7 linked regions of the Homo sapiens genome follow. The protein of the gene in region 3 purifies or fractionates together with the protein of the main gene of each other region. This does not show direct contact. Each region holds a gene or a part of one and is shown on either strand. Other genes may lie near its edges. The genes, in order: GOT1, URM1, TXNL1, GAPVD1, HID1, XPOT and PARN.

Region 1 (3,897 bases), on a different chromosome or scaffold from region 3:
TCAGGTAAACCACAATGTGGGGGCAAAACTTTTAAAGTAATAGCAAGGGATGAGTGCTCAGTAAGGATCACTGTAAATAACAGAGTAGTTAGCACACCAAATCTGACACACACTGAGCATTTTCACCCCAGTGCACTGCCTTTGCCCCTCTCTGTAATGTACAGCTATGTTTAGTTCTGCATCCCCTTGAATGTCAACTTTGCTTATGTTTCACATTTCAGATAGTATTCTTTCACAGATGCTCACACCTATAAATACAAACAGAACATTGGTGCATAATAGTGCCGATAATTGGTAACATTACCTTGTTGTTGGCTTAAATGGGATTTCTACTAAACGATTCACTGTTTTTAAGCTGACTTATGGGTTAAATGAATTTTTTTCAGTCATTTTCAGGAAGTATCCACTGTTTCCTGTTTTACTAAGCATTTATCTCAGGAATAGCCAAGCTTTTCTTACCTGTTGTGATGATCATTTGGGTTTTCTCTATCTAGCAGCATGATTGGTTTTATATCTCTTATAATCCATTCATGGGATGACTCTCAATCAAGGGGGTAATTTTAATGTACTGCTGGATTAATATTGTTCATTAATGTTTACTTGGGAAGTTAGTATCAAGGTACGATCTAGGTCTCTCATTCTACTTTTTTCCCTTTTGTTGTCTTTTAGCAGCAATGTTATGTTAGGTTCTTGAAAAGATTTAGGAAGCTTTTCTTCTCTAAGAAGAGTTTTAAAACTTTTTTATTGGCCAGGCGTGGTGGCTCATGCCTGTAATCCCAGTACTTTGGGAAGCCGAGGCAGGCGGATCACGAGGTCAGGAGTTGGAGAGCAGCCTGACCAACATGGTGAAACCCCATCTGTACTAAAAACACAAAAATTAGCTGGGTGTGGTGGTACGTGCCTGTAGTCCCAGCTCCTCAGGAGTCTGAGGCAGGAGAATCACTTGAACCCAGGAGGCGGAGGTTGCAGTAAGCCAAGATCGTGCCACTGCACTCCAGCCTGGGCAACAGAGCGAGACTCTGTCTCAAAAAACAAACAAAAAAAAAACACAAAAAAAACCTTTTTATTATGGAACATTTCAAATCTATATGAAAGTAGAGAAAACAGTATAAAGAATGAATCCCTGTGTATCCATCACCTAGCTTCAACAATTATCTGTATAGGGTCAATCCTGTGTATTTCCATCTACCCACTCCCTGCCTCCCTGCCTCCCTGCCCTCCACGAAAGCTGGATTATTATTTAATAGTAAATCCCAGACATCTAAATAGGTGTTTGAAATTGTAAAATTTTATGACTAATACATGAATACATTCATCTTATTTTTAAAAAAACGACTTATAGATTAGGCCAAAGTCCCTTTCAACCACTATTCCTACATCCTTGGACCCCTCCCCAGAGGTTGCCACTGTTAGAAGATTGGCGTGTGTCCCTCCTTGTATTTACTTATTTATTTATTTGAGACAGAGTCTCACTGTGTTGCCCAGGCTGGAGGGCAGTGGTGCGATCTTGGCTCACTGCAACCTCTGCCTCCCAGGTTCAAATGATTCTCACGTCTCAGCCTCCCGAGTAGCTGAGATTACAGGTGTGTGCCACCATGCCCAGCTAATTTTCTTGTATTTTTAGGAGAGACAGGGTTTCACCATGTTGGCCAGGCTGGTCTCAAACTCCTGGGCTCAAGTGATCCACCCACCTTGGCCTCCCAAAGTGCTGGGATTACAGGCGTGAGCCACTGCGCCCGGCTAGATAGACTTTTTCATGTGATCTTTTTCTTCCTTTCTCTTCAATCCTTTAGACAAATTGGGCAACATGGGGTTTATGACATTTTTCTGCTGAGAGACTTATGCTGAAACCTAATTAGAATTTTGAAGAGGCAAAATCAAAGATCTATAGGCAGAGAACTACATCATTAGAATGTAGTGACTCCATCTAGAATGGAAAACCTGGATTTGTGCTGAGCTGTGCCACTCACAACTGTGTATCCTTTGGGAAAAACATGTCTCTGAATCAGTTCCTCATGTTTCAGGGGATATAGACTTGACTTTAGAGGGCATGTGGGCATTGAGTATACATGAAAGCATTTTGTAAATGATAAAATATAGGAATAGAAAACCAAACACCTCATGTTCTCACTTAAAAGTGGGAGCTGAACAATGAGAACACGTGGACACAGGGAGGGGAACATCACACACGGGGGCCTATCGGTGGGTGGGAGGCAAGGGGAGGGAGAGCATTAGGACAAATACCTAATGCATGCGGGGCTTAAAACCTAGATGACGGGTTGATGGGTGCCACAAACCACCATGGCACATGTATAGCTATGTAACAAACCTGCACATTCTGCACACATATCCCAGAACTTAAAGTAAAATAAATAAATAAATAAATAAATAAAATATGGCTTTTATTATTGCCTATGTTAGGTCACTTTAGGATGAGAGGAAGCCAGCCAGGCGCAGTGGCTCACACCTGTAATCCCAGCAGTTTGAGAGGCCAAGGCAGGCAGATCACAAGGTCAGGAGTTCGAGACCAACCTGGCCAAAATGGTGAAACCCCGTCTCTACTAAATATACAAAAAATTAGCCGGGCATGGTGGCAGGCGCCTGTAGTCCCAGCTACTCGGGAGGCTGAGGCAGGAGAATCACTTGAACCTGGGAGGCGGAAGTTGCAGTTAGCTGAGACCATGCCACTGCACTCCAACCTAGGTGACAGAATGAGACTGTCTCAAAAAGAAAAAAAAAAAAAATGAGAGGAAGCCAAGGAGAAGAAAGTAGTACTCATGCATCACCTCTGTTTTGTTAGAACATACTTCTAAGGATTAATAAGCCTGAATTCTAGAGATGAGGAGTAGCACAGATTGATGTCAATGACAAGTTAGGAACACTGTTTTAGAGGCTTATGCTAGAGGGTAAGTTTGATCTTAGGATGGGTGCTGAAGAGATGGGTTTGCCTTCCAAGGCATGTGCGTGCATGCACACACACACACACACACACACTAATGTGGCCTCGGTGTGTCCTCTACCTCTGTGTTCAGAAGGGAAGCTTCTTCTAGTGTCAGACCTCCTGGGTTGAAGACTGGCACTCCTGCTCAGTAGCTGGTAACTTTGAGCAAGGTTCTTCACCTCTCTCAGCCTCAGTTTCCTCAGTTGTAAACATGGGCAAATCATAGTACCTTTTTCATGTAGTAGTTGTAAGGTTTTGATGAGATAATACAATTAAAAGCCTTAGCACAGAGCAGGCATAGAGTAAGTGCTCATTATTACCTTATTTTTGTAAATATTATCTGACCTCACCATTATCAGCCTGTGACCCTGTTTCTTCTCTTTCAGGTAGGAGGTGTGCAATCTTTGGGGGGAACAGGTGCACTTCGAATTGGAGCTGATTTCTTAGCGCGTTGGTACAATGGAACAAACAACAAGAACACACCTGTCTATGTGTCCTCACCAACCTGGGGTGAGTCTTTCAGCTGAAGTGAGAGGAAAAACAGAAACCAGAGAGAATTATCCTCATGACTCTCCCTGGTTACACAGAAAATGTAATCCAGCCCTAGAACAACTGACTGTTGGGAATGGCTTGAACAGTGGGTTATGGCAGTGCATGAGAAACCTGCTGCTCAAAATCAAGTTAAGAATACTCTTTCTCAAGACTCTTAGTAGACTTGTATCTACCAAGGCTATGTTGAAACTCCCCAGAGGAGGCATAGAATGTAGATGCAGGAAGTATCATTGTAGTAGAATATAAGTCTGGCATTAATGTGACTGGTTGAACTTGTTCTTGGTTACAATCATTCCTCTACATCTTAACCCCCAGCCTGGATGATGCCCAGTGGACATTGAGCCTGGGAGGGCCCTGGAAGCTGACTTGCATCCTTTCCACTCATGCCTCCTAGTGTTTGTAAA
Region 2 (4,540 bases), on a different chromosome or scaffold from region 3:
CGCGCACAGAGACGCCGGTCCCTGCCACCAGCGCCGCCATCCGCATCCTCGTCCTTCTTCCTTCTCTGCGGGTGACCAGTCCCGGCCGGCAGGGTCCTTCAGTCGATCGCGTCGTTTTTCCTCCTTTCAAATTTCGGCCGGAACGAAGCCGGCACGCAGCGGCGGGGCCGAATGTGGTCCGCCCTCAGCCCAAGCCGCATGAAGTCGGGGGTGAAAGAAGAGGCCGGCCGAATGCGCCCGCTAACTCGTTTCGCAGTTGTTCTAACTTATCACCCCAATACTCCCTACCTAAACAAAACAAATCCTCAACCAACCCCTAAATCCCAAACAAACCAACCCCTCCCGCAAGCCCCTCCGGACGGACCGATGGGCTGAGCCTCCTCCAGCCGCTGCCAGGGTCCGACGGGCAAGCGTCACCAACGATGCGCTCCAGCCCGGCAATCTCCTCGGCTTTGGAAATAGAATTTGGAAAAACGAATCCTTTTCATTAAAGAAAAATCTTCGGAGATAGCGGGGTTTTATTTGTTTATTTCCTCAAAAGCAGGGATCAGGAGTTGCTTGGGAGAGGGGCAGTTGGGAGCTGCTGGGGGCTGAGCCCAGGTCACCTGTCCCCTGACCCCTTTCCAGTCTAGGGCTAAAAATGACCTGAAATCGTCTGGTGTGCCTTGGACATGGCCAATTTCAACCACAGTGCTTGCACCCCCATGTGCCAAGAAACCCGGTTTTCCCAGCACCTCCTCCTGCCCTACTCTTCAGTATTAATTGGGGTGTGCTGGGAGAAGGGATATTCCACATCACACCTCCCACTCTCTGCAGCCAGGGAAACGGATCCTAGCGCCCAGTTTCCAGGACCTGAAATCTAGTGTGTTCCAATCAGGTGCACTGATGGGGCCGCTCCTGCAGCTCAGGGGGCTGCAGATGGGGAGGGACCTCCAGGTTACAAGAATCGGACAGGCTGACCTTCTAGAAGTGCAGCTGTAGGGAGCTGTTCCAAGTCTCTTGCTCTGTTCCCTAACATGGAGACCCTGACCTCAGGAACTAGTGAGGGTTGGTCACACAGCCTTTCTGGACAGCACTCAGACCCCAACACTGGCCTTAATTTGCACCCAGACCAGCTCCTCCCCATAGTCCCAACACGGCTGCTCCCACTCCACACAAGCCCAGAGGGTCTCTACCTGCAGTAGTCCTGGAGAAAAGCCCACCAGCCAGCAGGTCATCTACCCCCAAAAGAATGATGTGCACACCCCATCCCCCAACACTGCTGGGACAACCTTTTGCCACTTTCATCTCCACAGGGTGAGAGAAATTCCACCTTAAATTATTGACATAGAATGAAAAGCAACATTTTGGGTGGGATGATGCTTTTGGTGGGATGTTAGCACCCTAATTCTTTTTGGGGGTCTCCCTCCAGCAAAGCTCTTTTCTCTAGGTCATGGAAAGGAAAGACCACAGAAAGGGGGCTCAGCAGTCTTATCTATGCTACCCTCATTTTGGGTTCTGAGGCTGCTGGCTGCAGCTGGTGGGACAAAGCCTTGGACAGACGGGTGGGGATGCGTCCCGGGACACAGACTGGTCAGCACAGACTGGCTCTGCCACTCCCTTCTCCAGATGGCTCTATTAGACTACCCCCTCTCAGATTGTCTGAGTGTTCACCCCCACCCCTCTTTTGGGTGAAGGGTAGCTCTGAGGCCCTAGGCTGAGGATGGAGAGGTTGTATCACAGACCACGGCTGGGGGGATATGAGGTGCCACCCGTTTCCAAGGATGAAGCTCCAAGCAAGGCTAGTAAACAACCTAGTCTTTTATTTGCCCAAGGCCGGCTGTTGCAAGCACTGAGGCCCCAAGACTTCCAGAAGGGAAGGGGAGGAGGGGCAAAGCACTGTGCCTACCAGGTGCTGCCTGCCCCGTCCTGCTTCCTGCAGGAGGTGGGAAGGGAGAGAAAACGGACATTCGCGCCATCAAGTATCTCCCCAGTTTTCAGCCACTATATTCAGTTGTGGAGGAGGAAACTGAGGCACACGCATCCCCCCAGGCTTCTACTTGCTAGTCCAAGGTTTAACTTACTCCCTCCCCTCATCTCTACCCCCAGCAGAATGAGCTGTAAGCAGCCTGGGGAGGGTCTCAGGAGCCCATCTGGTGGCCTGTGGAGCGGGGCAGGCCAGCCAGGGTCAAGGGCTAGGGGTGGGGGGAGCAGGAGGGGTGTGGCTGGAGGAGCAGCTGCTGGCGGTGGGGGGAGTCGGCACTCAATAGGGGACCCCAGCTGGGGTTCCATACTGATAGCAGTGGGGGACAGGCAGAGCCCTCAGCTGTACAGACAGGGAAATTGAGGCTGAGAAGCCTCCAGTCTTTGGGTAGGGAGGGGCCTTCCTTCAGCTACTCAGGTCCATTCATCTTCCCCATGAAGACGCTGGCTCTGGGGCTGGAGCGCCTTGTCAGCGGCCACTCCATGTTTAGACTGAGGTACAAGGAGTGGAAGGCAGCCAGGTCACCTGGCCACAGAGCCTCCTTCAACTCTTGACAAACTGGAGGGGAACCCTCCCCCACCACAGCTGCTGGAAAAGGGAGTGCTGGGCTCTGGCGCCTGTCTGCCTTCCGCTGCTCACGTGCTTGAGAAAGGCTCATTTTTAGCACCTGGCCTCTTTTCCCTGCCTGGAGGGAGCTTAGGGGACAGAGCAGGGAAGAAGGCAGGCAAGGGGGACAGGGAGACCTGGAAGCAGGGCCCAAGGGGATGTCTGATTGCTTCGTTCTCCCCTCTAAGGGTGCCCAGGCCCAGAGAAGGGCCCTCAGCCGCCGTGCAGAGTGGAGATGAAGAGGACGCTGTCCTGGTCCTGAAGCTGGTAGTCCAGCTCACCCTGGTGCGGGAGAGAGGGGAGCGGGAGACCCTCAGGGCCACCTTCCCAGGTCCACCCCAGGAGTTGGGAGAACAGGGGCTGAGGACTGGCTGCTCTGGAAGAGACAGACTCTACCAGAAAAATGGGTATCCTATACCTCAACCTGCAAATCTTCAGGATGGAGGAGTACTCCCATGTCCCCAGCTACCCATCCCTTCCTCACCTGGAGTGGGAGACTCCAGCAGCCTCAGTGTGGGGCTGGAGTGGGGCGGAGGATTACCCAGCCACTCTATATGTGCCTGAGGAGAGGCCCAACGCTTTCCCACTGAAGCAGCAAGGGCAGGGGCTGGGGGAGGGATGTCCCCCAAGGTACTGACCAGTAGCTCCCAGTCGGCATCGTTAATCAGCACCAGAATTCCTGGCCGCCTGTGGGAAAGATGGTGGTGAGTAGCAAGGAGTGAGAGGCAGGAGGCAGTAGCACAGAGGAAGAGAGGCTGAGAGCTTTGGGCTGCAGGAGAGTGTGCTGAGGAGCCTTCCTCCTGGGGTCTGGCTAAAGATATCCCAGGAAGGGGAGGCTGGTCTGAGTGTGAAGGAAACCAGGTCAGTCATGCATGGTCTTTGTAGCCAGATGGAAAATGGGTGCAAATGCCAGCCAGCACCACCACCCAGACCATGGGCAGGTCATTTTGTTTCTGAGTATCAGGTTCCTCATCTGAAAATGGGATAAGTGATACTGTCTAACCCACAAGGCCTATACGAAAACGAAATGAGCTGATATGTGTGGAGTGCTTGCCACACTGTCATGGTAACCATTAGTAGGACTTTTCCAGGGGTCTAATCTTATTCTCGTTAGCCCTGGAAAAGAACTTCGGCTTTTTTTTAGGCCTCTGCATGCCCATCCTGGAGAGAAGGCTGTTTTGCCTCTTCCGAATCAGTTGCCATGCCACATGGCAATGCTCACGTGCAGTCCTGCCTGGCATAAGGCAGGGTAGGTCAACATTTGGTCAGGCAGCTTAGCCTGGCTCCCACTGGTAATGGCCCAAGGAGCACTGCTGGCCTTAGAGGTGGCCTCCAGGACCACTGGACCATGACCTGAAGGAGGGCTGATCCCCTAGGCCTGATCCCTTAGGACCTGACAGTGACCTATGCTTCGAGGCAAATAAGCGAGCCTCACAACTGCACCGGCCACCTTTCACGTGGGGGACTGGCCTTGTTTTAGAAGTAACTTCGTGGCAACTGGAACCTGGTCCTTTCCAAGGAGACTGCACTGGGCTTCTATGGGGTGTCCCCAGTGAGTGTGTGTGCATGTGCATGGGTGTGTGCACGCACAGAGTCAATGACTCCTTGGAATTCTAGACCCGTGCTGCACTGTATGGTAATCTACTAGCTGCATGTGGCTATTTAAATTACAATGAAATAAAACAGAATATTTAGCTCTTCAGTTGTACTAGCTACGTTTTTTCCTCAGCACTTTCTGTGTAGAGAGTAACTGAGGCCCAGAGAAGCGAAGTAAGTCGCCTAAGGTCCCACAGCAAGTCTGTGGCAACCAGAGGGCAGAATCCAAGTTTTCTGAGAAATTCACCAGGCTCCTTTCATCTGGGATTTAAAAAATCCTCAAGAGTTCGGTTTAGTAACAAGAAAACTGAAAACAGATCTCAGAGCTGGAAGAGTTAGGGAGGAGGAAGGGGAGAACCGGATTCAGAGAAGGCC
Region 3 (4,372 bases):
AAGTAAGGATGGGGAGTTATCCTTTAATGGATATAGAATTTCTGTCTAAAGTTATAGGAAACAGTGGTGATGGTGGCACAACATTGTGACTGTATAGTCATGTCTGGGTATCTGGGGGATTAGTTTCAGGACCTCCAGCAAGACACTAAATCACAGATGCTCAAGGGCCTAATAGAAAATGACATGGTATCTGCACATAACCTACGACCATTCTCCCATATACTTTAAATCATCTCTAGATTACTTATAATGCCTAAGGTAAATGCTATGTAAATAGTTGTTATACTGTATTGTTTAGAAAATAATGACAAGAAAAAAGTGTGTACATGATCAGCACAAATGCAATTTTTTTTCTCCAAATATTTTCTATCCACATTTGGTTCAATCCATGGATACAGAGGGCTGACTGTCCTTAATGCCAATGAATTATACTCTTACAAATGGCTAAATGGTCAATTTTATGTTATATATATTTTATCATAAGCCACTAAAGATTCTTACACAGGAGAACAATCTATGTATCATTTTAGTAAAATTTAGACTGAGAGTGCATAAAGCATAGAGGTTAAAAAAAAAGAAAAAAGGTTTAAAATAGGGTTGGAAAGGAAATGAAATAGGTGCTGGAGAAACTATGCCCTCAGTCTAAACTGGGACAGCATTAACTTTGATCTAAGAGGATTCTTACAAGATTTTACTGAATACAGTTGTTTCTGAGTCTAATACTGACCCGTCATATACATAATTCTGGGGTTCTATTGACAATGAGTTTAGACAGGATGTATTAATGGCCAATAAGTTCGAGGAATATTAAAGGTAAATACAATAATCTTACCAGATTTGTAAACGTAATATAAATATGCTTTTGAACTTACTCTAAATCCAAACATTAATTTTCCCTCGGTTTTTACAAAGAAAAAAAATTTTAATTCCACTAAAATACCTTTTTAAATGTAACAGTTCCTTACCAATCAATGTCTGCAGTTATGCTTATGCTTAAGTGACACCACACTGATAGAAAAAACCTTCCTTCGCAGCAATGTTTCCCCAGTTTTCTCACTTCAATCAATATTTATTTATTATTTTATTATCTCTCCCACTGCTATGGTAAGGGAGAAAAACAATATATCATTGAGGGACAAAAATATAAAAGCTTCGACGGGCCAGAATTAGAATAAGTGAACTAAAAGTGAGGTGAGGTTCCTTATTGAAATCCTATCTTCCCTTTTCTACTGTGGCCTAGATACTTAATGTACTACAGGTATTCCCCTATTATTAAGAATACAGACATCACAAAATTGCTAAAAATGAGAAGACACATTTATAGAATTCTAACATTCCTTTTAGGTGTTTTATATATATGACATCACTTATCCTTTTAAATTTAGTAAATGCAAAATTCCGTATATCATATGGGTACTCTAGCCCACCATATGAAATGCAAGGTACTATCCTTTTTCAATTCAGTGTAAGAGAGACTGGTCCAAAAATAAGTCTTAACTTGTTTTCATATCTATCTGCATCCATTCCCTAAAACGATATAATCCTAATGCCACCATTTATATACTCAACATTTAGTGAACCATCTAGTAGAAACTTTGTTTTTTGCTCTGAAATTCAAAATGGAATTTTGTGTTTATACAGTTATTTGGACAAGAAAGTGTGTTACATAAACAGTGATACCAGCAGTAGACTGCTCCAAGTTAGATGTATAAATAACGCCAAGGGGTCAAGGAAAATAAAGCGGAAACCTCTCATACTTCTAACTAAATACTATCGACATACACAAGGAGAGATCTGTGAAACACACACACACGCTGAAATCTTGGTTCTCAACGCCGAGTTCCAACATGTCATTCTTACAAAGGAACTTTACTACACATCCACTATAAAAGGTCCACCTTTTCTACGACCTATAATTTTGTTGATATTTACCAAAGACAGTTAACATTTTTCAAGATCCCTGTCCTCTTAAGTGAAAAAACAGAGCCGGGTCAAACTAAGACATCCGGCCAACTGTCCACCTGAAATATATTATATATGTACTGTCGTGTGTGACCAGTTGCAATCGCATACATAGGGGAGCCTAAGCTACAAGTTAGTGGCCGAACGAGGAAGAAAAAAGTTCAAATAATTTAAAAAGCACCCTAACCCAACGTTAACTTAGTTCGAAATGCATTAGCAGAAATTCAGGACTCAGAGCTACGCATATTAGTTAGATCGCCCCATCTGAATCTTCAAAGGCTTTAGAGAGATGTAGGTGGTGAAGAGAAACAAAGTGTTCGGTAAATTAAGCTTTTGGAGCTCTGGAGATGCAAATGACAGCTGGCTCTGCAGAAAGAAGGGGTCAGGCTCAGGCAAGGGTGGCTGCGGAGACTCCCACAGGCTGGAAGGAATAGGGGCGGGCCACCCCCAAAACCAGTTTGTCAAAGAATTGAAAAGGAGCAGGTGAGAAATCTCCTGAGCTGGAGAAGCCGGCCAGCCAGGCCCCCGAGCCCGTCTAGGAACCCCTGTGCATAAATGGGGGTTCACACCCGAGAAACGAGGCCTAATTCCGGCAGCTCCTGGGGCTGCGGCGACTGCCGGACACTCCGGGGCAGCAGACGGCTAGGAAACCAGGGCCAACAAAGAGTGAAAGGAAAGCAAGGAAGGACAGACGGGGACCCACAGAGCTCGAGCCTGGCCTCACCCTCTCATGGTGAACTTGACCACGGCGAGTCTGGAGCCCGCGCCGCTCAGCTCTGGCTGGAAATCCGGGTCGCTCCCGACGGGCTTCACCCCCACCATCCTCACAGAGAGCCCGGCAGGGTGGCCGCGACGCCACTGGCTTTGAAACTGAAGGAGAAGACGATCTGGGAGAGGAAGGAGAGATGCTCAGGAAGGCCGAGGCCTGGACAGAAGAGGTGGCGACCGCCGAGTCTTCTCCCGGGACTCTCAGTGCCGAGTCACGCCAGGGAGCGGAGCGGCCGAGGGGGCGGGGAGGGATGGGGGAGGGGAGAGGAGGAGGATGGGAAGGCGTGCGGCACCCAGCAGCCACCGCGCGGCAGGGCCCCCGGCGTGACGTCATTTCCGCGTCGTCCGGTTTGGCCTTCAGCGCCCAATCCCAAAACGCGAAGCGTAGTCCCACCCTCGACTGAGTAGCCTCGCGCTAACTTGAGCGGCGCAGGCGCAGAGGAGACGTGTAGAGGTCACGTGCGCAGGCGCAGACTGAGACTCAAAAGTTGGCATATGCATCCGCGTTTCCCAGATCTGAGGCTTTTACGGAGGAGGTTTCTGATTTGTAACAGTAGAGAGGAAACTCGTTTTACCCCGGGGTTCTTAGCTGCTGTCCAGGGCACCCACTGGAAGTACTTTGAAGATGCTCCTGTACTGTATTCGGGGCAGGTCTACATACAAGACAAAATAACGTTTAGGAATATTTATTAACAGACTTAATTACATATGGGGCGCTTTCTGTGCAGTCATTCAGAAAGTATCGTGCACCTGTCTTTAGGTTTTGACCAAAAAGATGAAGACACTATCCCTCCTTTAGGAAGTTCACGGTCTAGTGACCGACGCAAACAATAATTTGAATAGGAAGCGGTGGAGACTAACGAGATGGAAGGGTGGGGCAGGGTAAACTTGCTAGGAATCTGACTCCTGGATTGAATCTTTAAAGAGAAGCAGGGGTTAGATGGATGGTGAGAGGTAATATTCCAGGCAAGGGGACCACCAGGTGCAAATGCATGAGTTGAGAGGGTGGATAAGAAGAATAGCTAATATTTACCACATGATGTACCAGGCAAGACATAAGTTCTTTATATGTGTACTAGTTCATTTAATCCCTGTGAAGTAGGTTCTGTGATTTCAAGTCAAGGCAGGCTAACGCCAGTGTACTCTTTTAAATATTAGGCTAGGTGGCAAATTATCTGTCTTTGGATTTAGCTGGGGAGATGAAATTGGAGGGAAGGCCAAGGTCAGATAATGACTAGCTAAGGAATTTGGATTTTGTCGGGAAGAGAATGGAAAAATCATTTCAGGGCAATTTTGCAATTACAAGTGTGGTGAAACTCCCGTCTCTACCAAAAATACAAAAAAGTAGCCGGGCGTCATGGCGCGCACATGTGGTCCCAGCTACTCGGGAGGCCGAGGTGGGAGGATTCCTTGAGCTGGGGAGGTCAAGGCTGCAGGGAGCCATGATTGCGCCACTGCACTCCAGCCTGGGCAACAGAGCCAGACCCTGTCTCAAAAAAAAAAAAAAAAGGAAAAAGAAAAAGTGTCTTCAGAAAAGCCCTCAGGTAGCATCAAGGAGGATGGAAGGCAGTGAGATCCATTTAGGAGGATACTGTGGTGATCCAGGAACTAAATTAGGAAAGCATCTGCAGTGGAAATGAAG
Region 4 (3,897 bases), on a different chromosome or scaffold from region 3:
AGTAATGAGGAGCTGAATATTAATTCCCAAGACAATGGGGAAAATGTCTCCAGGGCATGTCAGAGGTCTCCATGGCAGACCCTCTCATCACAGGCCCAGAGGCCTAGGAGGAAAAATGGTTTCATGGGCCAGGCCCAGGGTCCCCATGCTGTGTGCAGCCTAGGGACTTGGTGCCCTGCCCTCCGGCCGCTCTAGCCATGGCTGAAAGGGGCCAACACAGAGCTCAGGCTGTGGCTTCAGAGAGTGCAAGCCCCAAGCCTCGGCAGATTCCATGAGGTGTTGAGCCTGTGGGTGCACAGAAGTCAAGAATGGGGTTTGGGAACCTCCACCTAGATTTCAAAAGATGTATAGAAACGCCTGGATGCCCAGGCAGAAGTTTGCCGCAGGGGCAGGGTCCTCATGGGGAACCTCTGCAAGGGCAGTGCGGAAAGGAAATGTGGGATCGGAGCCCCCACAAAGAGTCCCTACTGGGGCACTGCCTAGTAGAGCTGTGAGAAGAGAGCCACTGTCTTCCAGAATTCAGAATGGCAGATCCACTGACAGTTTGCACCGTGCACCTAGAAAAGCCAGCAACTCCACACCAGCCCATGAAAGCAGCCAGAAAAGTGGCTATACCCTGCAAAGCCACAGGAGCGGAGCTGCCTAAGACCATGGGAACCCTGGCTGGGTGTGGTGGCTGACACCTGTAATCCCAGCACTTTGGGAGGCTGAGTTAGGTGGATCACTTGAGGTCAGGAGTTCAAGACCAGCCTGGCTAATATGGTGACATCCCATCTCTACTAAAAAATACAAAATTAGCCAGGCGTGGTGGCGCATGCCTGTAATCCCAGCTACTTGGGAGGCTGAGGCAGGGGAACTGCTTGAACCCAGGAGGCAGAGGTTGCAGTGAGCCAAGATCGCACCATTGCACTCCAGCCTGGGCAACAAGAGCGAAATTCCATCTCGGGGGAAAAAAAAAAAAGAAAGACCATGGGAACCCACCTCTTGCATCAGCGTGACCTGGATGTGAGCCACGGAGTCAAAGGAGTTCATTTTGAAGCTTTAAGATTTGACTGCCCTGCTGGATTTCAGACTTGGATGGGGCCTGTAGCCCCTTTGTTTCTGCCAATTTTTCTCATTTGGAATGGCTGTATTTACCCAATGCCTGCACCTCCATTGTATCTAGGAAGTAACTAACTTGATTTTGATTTTACAGGTTCATAGGCAGAAAGGACTTGCCTTGTCTCAGATGAAATTTTTGACTGTGGACTTTTGAGTTAATGCTAAAATGAGTTAAGACTTTGGGCAACTGTTGGGAAGGCATGATTGGTTTTGAAATGTGAGAACATGAGTTGGGAGAAGCAAGGGGCAGAAAGATATGGTTTGGCTGTGTCCCCACCCGAATCTCATCTTGAATTCCCATGTGTTGTGGGAGGGACCCAGTGGGAGGTAATTGAATCAATGGGGACAGGTCTTTCCTGTGCTGTTCTCGTGATAGTGAATAAGTCTCACAAGATCTGATGGTTTTGAAAAAGGGGGGTTTCCCTGAACAAGTTCTCTTCTCTTGTCTGCTGCCATGTGAGATGTGCCTTTCACCTTCCGCCATGATTGTGAGGCCTCCCAGCCACATGGAACTGTAAGTCCAATAAACCTCTTCTTTGGTAAATTGGCTAGTCTCGGGTATATCTTTATCAGCAGCGTGAGAACAGACTAACACAGAAATCTACATCCAGGAAAATACAGCCAAGCACTTTGTAGGAAGCCTAGATTCATTTCTGAAATAAGGATAAAAAAGAAAACACTTGCAGCTAACAACTAGGTTTAAAAGCTGAACAGGTGGGGTATATTACCTGTAGTCCTCAGCAATCGAAGCCAGCAGTTTCCTACAAGTCCTATTATCAAAACGGCACACACAGCGCATTGTTTCTTGAAGTTGAGCCATTAGATTCTTATCTTGTAAATTAATTGCTTCAGCTATTTGAACTTTTAAGAAGCATACAATTTCATTGTCTAAATAAAAGATACAAGAATTCTGTTATTCTTGAGAATTTCCATGTGCTTAAATAAGCTAATTCAGCATTTGGGACGTCAATTCTGCTTTGTCACGTATCATTAGAACTAAGCTGTATTGCCACTCCCAATTAGAAAATACTTTAATAAATCATCAGTAATCAAAGTGCCCTTAAGTGATACTAATGTAAACATATTAAGTTGAACCATATGGAATTGCTGTACAGCTTCAACAGCTGAATACTGGCAATTTCATATGGTGCAACCCATAAACATAGGAAAAATTAAACGATCCTGCAGCAATTTACCTTCTGGGTCTGTGTGGTCTGGTAAACCATTCCTTGTTGAATGGGTCAGCACTGGGAAGGCAACAGAGTCCGCAGAGCAAAGAGCAAGCCTCAGTTTCTTTTTTGCATCTCTGAAAAATGAGTAGAAAATACATTAATTTCTTTATCCAGATATGGTCACATTTTACAAATATTTACTATATAAATTAATGTTACCTTAGGACTCAAATGTTTCAAACATTTTAAAGAAGATGATTCTTAACTGACACTCCACTTAAAAGAACAGGCTTTCTAATTACCCAAGGAGCCAGGTGTGCTCGGGGCAAGGACCATTCTTTAAAGCACCAGAATCAAACAACAAATCCTTTCTGACCTTTTTTCATACACTGAGTTCCATGACGGGTGCTATAAGAATCGGAAAAGCATATTATGGCAGAGTGGGAGGGACCACGGAAGTCAGAAGCTCCCAACACCCAGATTTGGAATGCCTTCTGGCACATCTCTTTAGAAACGCTGATGACGCCACAAAATAAGCTCACTACCTGACAAGAAACCCTTTCTTCTTTTTTTTTTTTTCCTTTTTCTTTTTTATAGAGATGGGATTTTGCTATGTTGCCCAAGCTGGTCTCCAACTCCTGGGCTCCAGCGATCCACCTGTCTTGGCCTCCTAAAGTGCTGGGATTACAGGCGTGAGCCACCACGCCCAGCGAGTTTTTTAAATCCTTGAATTAACACCTTTGATACATAACATCTACAACTGAAACAAAGTCTTCTTAGTAAACAGCATTTCATTTTTCTCTCCCTGCTTTATACATTTATTGACTCAAAACATCACTTGACTTGACGTGACTGCAATGGTGCTGAAAAGTCCAAACCCTAAAGTCCCAAATCCTATAAAAGAAATACCTGTAAGAGAAAGCTGAATCCTGCGGGTGGGCTGCTTGGCTTGCAGAGTCTGGGAGATCATCAGCCGAGATGTTCTGCAGTGCTTCGTCACGGGGAGAATCATGTGCACTTTCACCATCACCCATAACCTCTAAACAAAACCCACCCCCAAGAAACGGATACCCAGGTTCATTTGGAATATTATGGCACTAGTAGGTATTCAGAGCAACTCAAGAATAAATTACCATTGACTAATAATAAGAGTTCTCTGGAAAAAAAAGAAAGAAAAAACAAACTTCAAATACTTAACTGAATTATCAATAGCAACAATTATGTATCAAGAGACTAGTTGCTGAGAAGAGAGTGGTTTTACTTCTTATCCCAATACTAATGCAAAACAATGAACTAATGCAAAATAATGAAAGTTCACATTAACTTAATAAAGTTAACATCTTAGAATCACTGAACCAGAGAACTAAAAGAGGCTTCAAAAATCATTTTATACCCTCATTTTATAGACATGGACTCCTGCCCAGTCAGAAAATGGCTTGCTCTAAATTTCTTGGTTGGCCAATGGCCAAGGTTGACTATGGGTTAAGGTCTCCTGATTCTCTCTACTGGAGGTCTTCCTGCTACACCCAAGAGTGAGTCAAGGGACCAAATCACACATGCAACAAAGTCAGATCTGTGGTTTCCAAAGTTGGTTTTATGTCTTAATCAAGAATACACGGCTGGG
Region 5 (4,419 bases), on a different chromosome or scaffold from region 3:
AGGCAGGCGGATCATTTGAGGTCAGGAGTTCAAGACCAGCCTGGACAACATGGTGAAACTCTATCTCTACTAAAAACAAAAAAAAATTAGCTGGGGGTGGTGGCGGGCCCCTGTAGACCCAGCTACTCGGGCGGCTGAGGCAAGAGAATTGCTTGAACCCAGGAGGTGGAGTTTGCAGTGAGCTGAGATTGTGCCACTGCACTCCAGCCTGGGTGGGCGACAGAGCGAAACTCCATCTCAAAAAATAAAAAATAAAAAAGCATCCAAGATTTCCAGAAGCTTCCAGACATAGCTTGCAAAATGATGTTGTGGAAAAAGCGCAGCCTCATTTGGATGAGCTCCTTACTACCTGTGTGGCTTTGGGCAAGTAATTGCTTTAAGCCTCATTTTCCCCAAGTGTAAAATGGGGATAAAATAATACCTCAGAGGTAGCTATTAGAGATATCGTCATTGTCGTCTTGTTTTGATTCCCCCCCCCCCCCCGAGATGGAGTCTTGCTCTGTCGCCCAGGCTGGAGTGCAGTGGCGTGATCTCGGCTCACTGCAACCTTTGCCTCCCAGGTTTAAGCAATTCTGCTACTTCAGCCTCCAGAGTAGCTGGGATTACAGGCGTGCGCCACTAAGCCCAGCTAATTTTTGTATTTTTAGTAGAGACGGGGTTTCACCATGTTGGCCAGGCTGGTCTCGAACTCCTGACCTCGTGATCCGCCTGCCTCGGCCTCCCAAAGTGTTGGGATTACAGGCGTTAGCCACCGCACCCGGCCTTGTTTTGATGATTAATCTGCCTCTATTACAGGCTTATTTGGCTGTACCCTGGCCGCTTCTTTCCTTATCCCTCTCCCTAGCTGCTCGCCATAAAGAGCAGGCTGTACTACTTATGTCCGCTGTGTCCGTCCATGACACAGAGTTGGCAAATACCAGACCCTCAGCACATTTGTTGAAATGGATGAATCTCAAAGGATTCTCTGGGAATCTGGTGGCTAGAGAGGGGTCGGGACCGCGAGGGACTCTCGCGCTCAGCAAGGCGAGGAGCTGCTTTCCTGGAGTATGGAAACTGAGTCAGCGCCTCCCTCCCTCATAACCAAGGGCCTGCGGGACTGTCTGAACACGTGGGTTTGACAGGTCAGAAAAAGGGAGAACCAAGAGAGTGGATGCTCAGAAAACATGAATGGGAAAGACAGACTGAGAAGGAGGAAAGTGGGATGGAGAGGGCCAGCTGAGACGTGGGCCAGGAGCCGGAGCGGAGATGAAGGGTGAGGACCGGGGCGGGGGACGAGCTGCGAGGAGGGTTTTGGGCCCTGGGGACTGCGTGGTAGCAGCGGAGGCGGGTACAATGCTCCGACGCAGAAGGAAGAGCGTCGAGGCTCCGGGTGGGACCTGAGAAGGCACCCGGCGTGCGGCGGCGCTGGGTTGGAACCGCCGACTCCGCGGGTCTTCGGCGGCGGGCGCTGCAGGTGCAGGAGGCGGAGCCACGCGGGGGCGGGGCCTGTCGGGGCGGGGCCGACGAGGGCCGGGGGCGGGGCGCGCCGCTTGTCTCCTGCGAGAGCCGCGGGGGCCGCGGAGCTGGAGCCGGAGCTGAAGCCGGAGCCGGGTTGGAGTCTGGGCGGGGGCCGGGCCGGAGCGGGCTCCAGAGACATGGGGTCGACCGACTCCAAGCTGAACTTCCGGAAGGCGGTGATCCAGCTCACCACCAAGACGCAGGTGCGCCACGGGGGCCCCGGCGTCCCCATCCACCTGCCGGGCTGGGGGCTGGGCAGGGCCGGGGGTACGCGAACTTGGCTCGTCGGGAGATGGGGGGACGGGCGGGCCCCGAGCGTAACGCCAAGGCCAGCGCCGGAACGGGACCCCGCGGCCTGTACCTGGAAGCTCCATCCCCTGGCCCTAGTCCCCCACCCTCAGCCTCCTCTCCTGGGAACACCCCTCTCCCCGAAGCCGCTGCTGCCACCTTAGGCTGACGTGTGCCTACTCCCCGAGCCGGCGACACAGCTGTCCGCCCCCTGTCCCGCCCCGCGGCGTCCCCAGCTTCGCATCTCCAGCCTCCCGCCGCCCCCACCCACCCATCCACCGTCCGCTCCCCTCCCTGCCCCTCATTGCCCGCGGGTCCCGGACGCACAGTCCCTGTTGACTCAATGCAAACAAAGCCTGGCTGGCGTCCGCCCGGGTCGGAGAAACAGCTGGTGTGCGCGGCAGCGGCCTCGCTGGGCCCTGGTCGATGCCCGTGGGCAGGGAAGGCCCAGGTCTTCCTGGGAACACGCAAAGAGTGGCGGGCAGCGAGGCAGCCTGGTGGGGGGCCCTGTCCCCAGGCCTACTGAGCACAGCCTCCCAGCTGGGGACCTCTCCAGGGGCCTTCCCCGAGGCCCTGCAAGGGAAAGGCTGTTAGCCTGTGTGCTCTGTTCTCTGGCTCAGGGATGGGGACCCGCAGGATGGCCCTCAGTCAGCTGGTGAGGGGCCTAAGGACCCTCCAGCCTAGTCCATGCTCATAACTCTCCTGTGAGTCCACAAGTGGCCCAATAGCCACCTCCTTATACCACCTGGCCCCAGCAAGACTGCTTCTCTGCCCACCCCTTCTCTCCTGGCTTTTTGAATCAGGCCACCGTGGCCACAGAGATGCTCGGCCCTGACTCCCCATGTCCCCCATTTTCAGGGGACACAGGACCTGCTGCCATCTGGGATCTTCCTCTTTCCTGGCCCCCCCACCTCCTGCTCTCCAGGGCTCTCTCTTGCTGCTGGAGGTTAGAGTGGGATGGAGGAAGCCAGCTCCCACAGCCAGCTGGTCACAGCTCCAGGGGCCAGACCTTGCTCCCTCACCCCTTTCCCCACCCTGGAAGGGTCAAATGTGCAGCAAATGCCCAGGGCCTCTGGAGAGTCCAACCCCGGCTGAAAGGCTCTTGATAGAAACCAGACCGCACTTCTCTCCATTCCCTACGGCTCCTGGGTCGTTCTGGAGCTTGGCTTTTTTAGGATGGGGTTTTCGTTCTGTGGGTGGCAGGGAAGGTGGCAAGTGGGCTAGCCCCTCAGTGTAGGGCTGCAGGGAGAGGAGTGGGGAGGCAGGGAGGAAGGGAGGCTCCCATGTTTACCTGCCTGGGGAAGAAACTCCTTGTTGGAGGATTGCACTGTGGGCTCGGCAGCTGGGGTCCTTTGCCAGGCCAGTGGGGCCAGCTCAGCAGAGTACCAAAGGCTCTGGAGTGGCCTAGATTCCTACCTGCTCAGGCCTTTTCCCCAAAATACTGTGTCCCTCTGTCTTTCCCTGGCTACAGCCCTATGATGGGCCACTTGAGATGGTGCTGTTCTGTTTCCCAGCTGAGTAGGCTTGGAATAGAACCTGGATAGGCTGGAGATCAGACCAGCCTTCTGGAGAGCACTGGGTCCTGTAGGCGGACGGGGGCCTGGGCTGCCCGGGGGGAGAGGCCTTCAGAGGCTGAAGCCTTGGACTCTGTGTAAGTGACCTGACTTGGGTAGCTTGGGTGTGAGGATCAGAACCCAGATGATCATCACTGACCTTACCACTTGGAGTCCCCAAGGAGATTCAGGCCAGTTGTCCATAGGATGATATGTGGTTCCAGGCTCTTACAGGGTGTGGCTTGGGCAGTAGACAGGCAGAACTAGCCCCTTTTCCTGTGGCCTGGGCCTGTATCCCTGCTGCTCCACCTTCCTCGCCTTCCTGCCCTGCATCCTGTTTTCTTCCTGCCCCATGGTCCAGTCCTGGGTCAGGCCTGACCCTGGTCCTAAGAGCCAGCCGCTTTGGCTGTGTTTCCTGGTGCTTCCTCATAGTAGGTGGGGCTCTGGAGGGAGACAGTCCCAGACCTGGAACCCTCTCCCAGATCCTGCCTGTTTGGAATTCTCTGCTGCAGGCCAGATGAACCTGGCGGGTGCATATTTACATGTGTATACATGTATGTGCATGGGAATGCATGGTGACACAGTCCTCTAGAGCAGGCTTAGCAGGCTTGAGGACTAGGGGACCTTCCCCCTGCACACCCTGAGAGTCAAAAGATACAACTGCTCCCCCAGGTCTGAGTGGGGGTCTAGTCCGAGCAGGGGCCTGGAAAAGCTGGGTTAAGAATATCTGATTTTGGGCCGGGTGTGGTGGCTCATGCCTGTAATCCCAGCACTTTGGGAGGCTGAGGTGGGAGGATCACCTGAGGTCAGGAGTTCGAGACCAGCCTGAGCGACATGGAGAAACCTCGTCTCTACTAAAAATACAAAAATTAGCCAGGCGTGGTGGAACATGCCTGTATTCCCAGCTACTCGGGAGGCTGAGGCAGTAGAATCGCTTGACCCCAGGATGCAGAGGTTGCGGTGAGCTGAGATCATGCTTCTAGCTTGGGCAACAAGAGCGAAACTCTGCCTCAAAAAAAAAAAAAAAAAAGAAAAAAGAAAAATCTGATTTTGGCCAGGCGTGGTGGCTCATGGCTGTAAT
Region 6 (3,897 bases), on a different chromosome or scaffold from region 3:
TTTCACTGATTTATTTTTATAACTGTCAATTTAGTTAAGTATTTTTATTATATGGTGTAAGAAAAATGTTTGAAATGTCTTCTGGAATTAACCGGAACAAAATAAATGTACAAAATTTAGAATAGAATTTTACAGAGTTTATAAGCCACTGAAGCCCATTCATGAAACCCATTCATGAGGCCAAAGGGCAAAACAAACCCTCCCTGAACATCTCAATTGGGCTTTTAGAATTTAAACGTAAATGTCTATACGAATTCTGCTGCTCAGTTTTGTCCCTCCTCTCTTCTTTCCAGTGACACTACTGATAACTATTATTTTTTCCTTTTGCTTTCTCAAGTAGCCATGAATAAAAATGGAGGAAGGCAGGGGTAAGTACTTCTAATAATTAAATGTCAGTTACCATTTACAAACATAATAAACACATAGGTATACTATAGGTATACTGTGTTCTAAATACATCCAATAAAAGAGTTAGAAAATAAATTGGGATTTTAAATTCTTTTTTTTTTTTTTTGAGAGAGAGTCTTACTCTCTTGCCCAGGCTGGCGTGCAGTGGCACAATCTCAGCTCACTGCAACCTCTGCCTTCCGGGTTCAAGCGATTCTCCTGCCTCAGCCTCCTGAGTAGCCGGGATTACGAGCGTGCACCATCACACCTGGCTGTTGTATTTTTAGTAGAGATGGGGTTTCACCATGTTGGCCAGGCTAGTCTCGAACTCCTGACCTCAAGTGATCCACCTGCCTTGGCCTCCCAAAGTTCTGGGATTACAGTCGTGAGCCACCACGCCCGGCCTGGAATTTTAAATTCTATCAACAGATTCACATAGGCTTTTTCCAGTACATTAAAGAAAAAGACTCTCATATAACAGAACTAAGTTGCATGTTACCTTTGAGGAGTGAGGTTAAATGAATTAAAGCATCCACACACTCATATTTGTAAACCTTTAAATGGGAAATTATGGAGAGATTAAGATGAGAAAATAAAACTAAAGTATTTATAATAATTCCAGAAAAGACTTGGAAGATTTCACTACGTAAAGTTTATTTTTATATATATATATAAAAAAAAGTATAACACTGGAGCCTAAAACCATTCTCTTTTGTAGAATACATATTGGCGTTGAAACAGTTTAAAGAAATGAAATGGCTATCTACAAAAAGTTAGTTTTGATTGCTGTCTTCCCCCATACTTTGTGTCTTCACACATAAAGAAAATTTTCAAAGATTTTATATTCAGCAATTTTTTAAAAAGTACACTGTTTTCCACTGCTATGGTCTTTATAAAGGACTTGACTTAAAATTTCAAATAAAAAAGAATTAAGGTTCTAGGATAACTCTTGTGTCTTTTAAGAGCATCTTTATACAGAACAATTTGGACCGGCATGCAGGCAACTTCTTTTGTTGTTACATACCTGTATTAGGAAAATTACACCCATTTTACAGAAAAATCCCAAAACATATACTGCAATAAGCTCAAAACAATGTGAAAAAGACCAGTGTGAATGGCACACAAAAATCGCCTCTTTATAAATTAACTGGAATTCATGATCATGAAGTAGGCACAGGGAAATCCAGTCCTCAGGGCTTTGCTCTCTGGAAGAACACCTGTAAATAAAGTATTAATGCAATCAATACTAATGTCAGAAGATATCACTTTCACCTGAAGAATGGCTCCAAGTATCTGAGTGCTAGCAATGTTCTTCTGTAACATTAGAACATTTCGCATGCCTTATATATCCGTATGTAATCCAAGCTAAGAACTTTCTGTTCTGGAGAGTTTGGTAAGTGTAGATATAACTTATGCTGACATCACCCAACTGGGGAAGTAGTGAAAATATGGTGTTATCTCTATGCTATAGAAATCAAGTGGTCAGAAGAAAACAAGCTCTTGACACCTTTTTACTGATTGGTACTATTTCCAAATTAACACTGGTAAATTAAATATTGAGGACGGGCACGGCGCCTGTAATCCCAGCACTTTGGGAGGCCGAGGCCTGAAGCCAGGAGTTTGAGATCAGCCTGACCAACATGGAGAAACCCAGTCTTTACTCAAAATAGAAAAAATTAGCCGGGTGTGGTGGTGCATGCCTGTAATCCCAGCTATTCGGGAGGCTGAGGCAGGAGAATCACTTGAACCTGGGAGGCAGAGGTTGTGGTGAGCCGAGATCGTGCCACTGCACTCCAGCCTGGGCAACAACAGTGAAACTCCGTCTCAAAAAAAAAAAAATTAAATATTGAGGAGGAAACAAGTCAAAGCTAAACATAGCAGTTCTAACTCTGTAAGGAATTTACTATTTATTTGATGATTCAAAAGTACTTCCAAGTCAAAATTTGAGACTACAAAGGAGTTGGCTAGAGGCTGTGCTAGGCATGGCCTAGTACTACATGCTGCCATCCATGGCAGGTCAGGTGAGCACCAGACATAATTCAGTGTTCTCAGTAAGGACAATGATATGGTTTGACCCTGTGTCCCCACGCAGATCTCATCTTGTAGCTCCCATAATTCCTATGTGTTGTGGGAAGGACCGGGTGGGAGATGATTGAATCATGGGGGCAGGTCTTTCCCATGTTGTTTTCCTGATAGTAAATGGGTCTCACAAGATCTGATGGTTTTAAAAATGGGAGTCTCCCTGCACAAGCTCTCTCTTTGCCTGCTGCCATCCACGTAAGATGTGACCTGCTCCTCCTTGCCTTCCGACATGATTGTGAAGCCTCCCCTGCCATGTGGAACTGTAAATCCAATAAAGCTATTTTGTAAATTGCCCAGTCTCGGGTATGTCTTTATCAGCAGCGTGAAAATGGACTAATACAGACAAGAACAGTATTGATAGTGCCCTAGTACCTAGGAGATTCATTTAATAGATAATCTACTATGTGCAGGGGAAAGAATGATCACTATATAGGCAAAAGAAAACCTTACAAGGAGGCTGTGCTTAAGGCAAACCTAGAGAAATGGGTACAGTTCATACAGAAGTTGGGCTGCTAGTAAGGCAGGATTTTTGAAGAACTACAAGAACAGTAAAGACCATTTCTGCAAGAAAAAACAGAAAGGTAGTCTCAGGGCAGAATATGAAAAAAAAAAAAAATTAAGTGCCAAACTGAGAAACATGAATTTGTTCAGGAAGGTTATGAGGAAGGTGAATAAATATCAAAGGACTGCTTGAAGTTTTCAAACACATCAGCCTGGCTAGAACAAGAGAAGAGAGATCAGAGTAAGATAACATCAGCCTACACCAGAGCAGCAGAGACAGAAGAGAGAGAAGATGAGGAAAGAATCTGCAAGATCTGAGGATCAATCAGATGTGAAGGGAGGAGTGAACACGAATGAAATTCATTTTTTCCAACTAGAATAATAATGCTAACACTGAGAATTATGATCACTAAGATAATGTCATCACTGAAGAGAAGTTGGGCCCAGAAGGAAGACTTTTTATAAATGCTATGCAGATAAATAACCACATCTGGAGAACAAGCCTTCTATAGGGTACCTAGATCTACTGTTACAGACACCTCTAACAGATAGTGAGGACTGAGTCCTTAAATTCAGTTTGACTGATCAGTTATTTAACAGGGGTTACTCCTGTAGGCACTTTGCTTTTTTATGGGAGGATGGCGAAGGGGAGGGTTCCCAATGATAAACAAAAACAAGCCCTCAATATTCTTCCACAAAAACTCTGAGATGTTTAAGCTGACAAACTACAACTAAGAAAAAACTGACAAGGGAAGATGTTAGAACCACAGTCAAAGGATGGCACACTTAAATTATTTACTGCGCAAAGCCCTCTGACTTACAAATTCTACTGAATGTCTTTGCTAAAAGAACCAGGTGATACACTAAGTTACCTGCTACTGAATTTAATACAGTGCTTTGTCTTCAAATTATTTGAGTGAAGATAAT
Region 7 (3,897 bases), on a different chromosome or scaffold from region 3:
ATTAGCTGGGCGTGTTAGCACATGTTTGTAGTCCCAGCCACTCCAGAGGCTCAGGCAGGAGGATCGCTTGAACCCAGGAGGTGGAGGTCGTGGTGAGCCAAGATCGCACCACTGCACTCCAGCCTGGAAACAGAGCAAAACCCCATCTCAAAAACAAAAAAAAAGAAAAGAAAAAAAAAAGAAACACATCTGGCCAGGCGCGATGGCTCACGTCTATAATCCCAGCACACTGGAAGGCCAAGGCGGGTGGATCACCTGAGGTCAGGAGTTTGAGACCAGCCTGACCAATATGGTGAAACGCTGTCCCCATTAAAAATACAAAAATTAGCAGGGCGTGGTGGCAGGTGCCTGTAGTCCCAGATACTCAGGAGGCTGAGACAAGAGAATTGCTTGAACCCAGGAGGCAGAGGTTGCAGTGAGCCGAAATCACACCACTGCACTCCAGCCTGGGCGACAGTGTAAGGCTCCATCTCAAAAAAAAAAAAAAGAAAAGAAACACATCTGTTACTCTACATACAGCAGTTATGCTTCAATTTTTCACAACCATATATATAAAATACCTTCTATGAATTCAACTACAGATCTTCAGCCTGAAAAAGGAAGAGGAAGAAAAGAAAAAGGAGAAGACAAAAATGATGTAAATGTCATGCTATGCTGACTGCCCTACTATTCTACAAACACACTCTTCTGGGTGTGAGTGTGGTTCTGTCAGCCCATTCCTCCACATCTTGACAAGCATATGGGAGCATCTCACTGCGCACACAGGGTCTTATTTTTTAAAGAACATATTAAATTGTTGTATCCTCAAATCCTATATGCTTTAAGGGTGATAAGAGCTTTCTGAGAGAGATTTTGACCCAATTTTCACCCTACTTAATAACTCCAGAAACTAATGCCCTTGTATGCAACTCTGCTACAACTATAGAATTTTAAATAAAACAAAAACCTTAAATGAGAGACCAAAGAAAATCCAAAAATACATTAACCTTTTCATACAATTCCCAAATTTAGAGTCTAAACCTTTTCTCTGCCTTTGCTTTTCCACACTAGAGAATCCCGGCATTTTTATTCATCTGTTTTAGACATTACTCTCTGGGCTATCTTCAAGTCTATGATAGCTTTTTTTAAAGGAGTGGCTGGCAACTACAACTGTATTAAGTATTCCAGGTGTACAATCATGGTTTGTACAATGGGTGAAGTTCCTCTGATCTGTTTCCAATACATTTCTCAAAATAACCAGTTTTGTCTTGGTTGTTTAGAACAGAGTGCCATCGGCCAGATGTGGTGGCTTACGCCTGTAACCCTAGCACTTTGGGAGGCCAAAGTGGGAGGATCACCTGAGGTCAGGAGTTTGAGACCAGCCCGACCGACATGGAGAAACCCCATCTCTACTAAAAATATAAAATTAGCCGGTGTGGTGGTGCATGCCTGTAATCCCAGCACTTTGGGAGGCCAAGATGGGAGGATCACCTGAGGTCGGGATTTCAAGACCAGCCTGACCAACATGGAAAAACCCTATCTCTACTAAAAATATAAAATAAGCCGGCGTGATGGTGCATGCCTGTAATAACAGCTACTCAGGAGGCTGACGCAGGAGAATCACTTAAACCCGGGGCTTTAGCCTGGGCAACAAGAGCGAAACTCCATCTCAAAAAAAAAAGAACAAAGTGCCATCCCCAAGGTGTCTCATTGCCACCCTCTGCTTTTGTTTGATTAACCCCTGGCCAAAGCCATGGAACCCACTTTAAATAATTCTGTGTTGCTGGTACTGCTAGAAAACTATATCCACACAAATTTCCCAACTGAGCCTACTTTTCCCTCAATGAAAATTTACCAAAAAAAAAACAAAACAAAACAAAACTGTAAGGCCGGGTGCGGTGGCTCAGCACTTTGGGAGGCCAAGCCGGGCAGATCACCTGGGGTCGAGAGTTCGAGACCAGCCTGATCAACATGGAGAAGCCTCACCTCTACCAAAAATACAAAATTAGCTGAGCATCTTGGTGCATGCCTGTAATCCCAGCTACTCGGGAGGCTGAGGCAGGAGAATCGCTTCCACCCAGGAGGCAGAGGTTACAGTGAGCCTAGATCATGCCATCACACTCTAGCCTGGACAAGAAGAGCGAAACTTCATCTCAAGAAAAAAAAGAAAAGAAAATTTATAAATACTCTTTAAGTATCCCATACCACGGTGATTGACAAATAGCTATTAACTGATTGCAGGGTAAAGGTAAAATGTCAACTGGTTTACTTGCTAATTTAGGAAACTGTCTATAAGACCAGAATTTAACCTTCACCTTTTCTCTTTTGCCCATAAGCATATGATTAACTCTCGATTTCATTTGTTTATATACTGCCAGTTTTGAGAAAGAATTTGACATAACTCAATCACTTGAAGCCTACCCTCGAGGCTTTCATAACTGCATTACCATTAATCTGCAAGAGAAGGGAAAGATGGCAAGACTCAAATGAATTCATGTTTTTAGTGGGAGAGAAGATAGGATGCAAGATTTTAAGGGAGAAAAGATTAAGACTTATCTTTAATCACATAGCCACACAACCATACCCCTTACTCACATTCTCCTTATCCATTACAACAGATAATCAAAAGAGCAGAAAGGAAACAGTGATATTTACTGAGTGTCTACCAGGTCAGCTACAACACCTCTAGAGGGAATATCCTGAAGGAGAACCTCCCTAATATTGACCCATCAATTAAGCTCTCTTCTCCTCAAGAGAAACAGTAGTTTTTTTTTCTACCCCCCTTTCCTAATTAGTGAGCTTGAGAAAAGGAAGTCAGCATAAATACTTGAACCCCTTCTGCGCTTTCTCTTTTTGCATAGGATACACACATACTCTGCTTTTCCAGAAAATAAAGGTCTACACCCTCAGAGTGGATGCGAGGAGAATGAGTGAGGATAGGGAGAAGCCTCCAAGTCTTTTGTTTATTTTAATTTTTATTTTAAAATAGAGATGAGGTTTCACTATTTTATGCCCAGGCTGGTCTCAGACTCCTGAGCTCAAGTGATTCTCCCGTCTTGGCCTCCAAAACTGCTAGGATTACAGGTGTAAACCACCACATCCAGCCAAGAAGCCTGCAAGTCTTGATGTGTAGGTGGTTCAACTTGGGGGTAAAATAATAAAAATCCCAAATGGAGTTACGAAACTATGTTCTCAAATTCAGCTTTAGAATTACTAAACCTCATGTTCTCATATCTGTCTGTCTGTCTCTGCATCTTATTCCTTAATTCATTCTTTTTTTTTTTTTTGAGCCAGAGTCTCGCTCTGTTGCCCAAGCTGGAGTGCAGGGGCGTGATCTCGGCTCACTGCAACCTCCACCTCCCAGGTTCACGCCATTCTCCTGCCTCAGCCTCCCTAAGTAGCTGGGATTACAGGCACCCATGACCACACTCGGCAAATTTTTTTTTTTGTATTTTTAGTAGAGACAGGGTTTCACCATGTTAGCCAGGATGGTCTCGATCTCCTGACCTCATGATCCGCCCTCCCCGGCCTCCCAAAGTGCTGGGATTATAGGCATGAGCCGCCGTACCTGGCCCTCCTTAATTCATTCTACAGCAAAGGAGGAGATAACAGGGTCATGAATTTATTACCCTAAAACTGAAGGTCAAAGGTGAAATGATTTGCCCCAAAGCCCAAAGTTAATAGAGAACCAAATTCTGATTTCACATTTCCATGCTGCCTCATCAGCAATTCAGAAAAGAAAAATCTCAATTATGCTACTTACCTGACAAACAAATTTGACATCTGGTGAGGATCTATTGAAGGGTTTCGGGAAAACATAGAAGTTAAATGACTTCGTTATATACCTGGGATAAGATAAAAGGAGACTTAGGAGGTGACATTGTGCCACAAAAACGGAATTCCCAACGTTTGTTAACA

Evidence for each region.
Region 1: the proteins of TXNL1 (region 3) and GOT1 purify together in Homo sapiens (affinity purification with mass spectrometry; one large-scale study listed by BioGRID and IntAct). This does not show direct contact.
Region 2: the proteins of TXNL1 (region 3) and URM1 fractionate together in Homo sapiens (co-fractionation; one large-scale study listed by BioGRID). This does not show direct contact.
Region 4: the proteins of TXNL1 (region 3) and GAPVD1 fractionate together in Homo sapiens (co-fractionation; one large-scale study listed by BioGRID). This does not show direct contact.
Region 5: the proteins of TXNL1 (region 3) and HID1 fractionate together in Homo sapiens (co-fractionation; one large-scale study listed by BioGRID). This does not show direct contact.
Region 6: the proteins of TXNL1 (region 3) and XPOT fractionate together in Homo sapiens (co-fractionation; one large-scale study listed by BioGRID). This does not show direct contact.
Region 7: the proteins of TXNL1 (region 3) and PARN fractionate together in Homo sapiens (co-fractionation; one large-scale study listed by BioGRID). This does not show direct contact.

Annotation. Positions count from the first base shown.
Region 1 is NC_000010.11:99,406,280-99,410,176, reverse strand, and holds part of GOT1 (aspartate aminotransferase, cytoplasmic), read left to right. Parts: intron 1-3,327; coding exon 3,328-3,451; intron 3,452-3,897. UniProt on the Homo sapiens protein: Biosynthesis of L-glutamate from L-aspartate or L-cysteine. Important regulator of levels of glutamate, the major excitatory neurotransmitter of the vertebrate central nervous system. Acts as a scavenger of glutamate in brain neuroprotection.
Region 2 is NC_000009.12:128,387,977-128,392,516, reverse strand, and holds the end of URM1 (ubiquitin-related modifier 1), read right to left. Parts: exon of another isoform or gene 3,257-4,540; coding exon 3,208-3,256; coding exon of another isoform or gene 3,004-3,207; exon of another isoform or gene 2,852-3,003; coding exon 2,783-2,851; 3' UTR 501-2,782; downstream 1-500. UniProt on the Homo sapiens protein: Acts as a sulfur carrier required for 2-thiolation of mcm(5)S(2)U at tRNA wobble positions of cytosolic tRNA(Lys), tRNA(Glu) and tRNA(Gln). Serves as sulfur donor in tRNA 2-thiolation reaction by being thiocarboxylated (-COSH) at its C-terminus by MOCS3.
Region 3 is NC_000018.10:56,635,657-56,640,028, forward strand, and holds the start of TXNL1 (thioredoxin-like protein 1), read right to left. Parts: upstream 2,937-4,372; 5' UTR 2,785-2,936; coding exon 2,687-2,784; intron 1-2,686. UniProt on the Homo sapiens protein: Active thioredoxin with a redox potential of about -250 mV.
Region 4 is NC_000009.12:125,348,805-125,352,701, reverse strand, and holds part of GAPVD1 (GTPase-activating protein and VPS9 domain-containing protein 1), read right to left. Parts: intron 3,313-3,897; coding exon 3,183-3,312; intron 2,408-3,182; coding exon 2,298-2,407; intron 1,990-2,297; coding exon 1,830-1,989; intron 1-1,829. UniProt on the Homo sapiens protein: Acts both as a GTPase-activating protein (GAP) and a guanine nucleotide exchange factor (GEF), and participates in various processes such as endocytosis, insulin receptor internalization or LC2A4/GLUT4 trafficking.
Region 5 is NC_000017.11:74,969,872-74,974,290, reverse strand, and holds the start of HID1 (protein HID1), read left to right. Parts: upstream 1-1,531; 5' UTR 1,532-1,634; coding exon 1,635-1,700; intron 1,701-3,498; exon of another isoform or gene 3,499-3,602; intron 3,603-4,419. UniProt on the Homo sapiens protein: May play an important role in the development of cancers in a broad range of tissues.
Region 6 is NC_000012.12:64,445,812-64,449,708, reverse strand, and holds part of XPOT (exportin-T), read right to left. Parts: intron 1,605-3,897; coding exon 1,578-1,604; 3' UTR 1-1,577. UniProt on the Homo sapiens protein: Mediates the nuclear export of aminoacylated tRNAs. In the nucleus binds to tRNA and to the GTPase Ran in its active GTP-bound form. Docking of this trimeric complex to the nuclear pore complex (NPC) is mediated through binding to nucleoporins.
Region 7 is NC_000016.10:14,623,364-14,627,260, forward strand, and holds part of PARN (poly(A)-specific ribonuclease PARN), read right to left. Parts: intron 3,825-3,897; coding exon 3,743-3,824; intron 1-3,742. UniProt on the Homo sapiens protein: 3'-exoribonuclease that has a preference for poly(A) tails of mRNAs, thereby efficiently degrading poly(A) tails.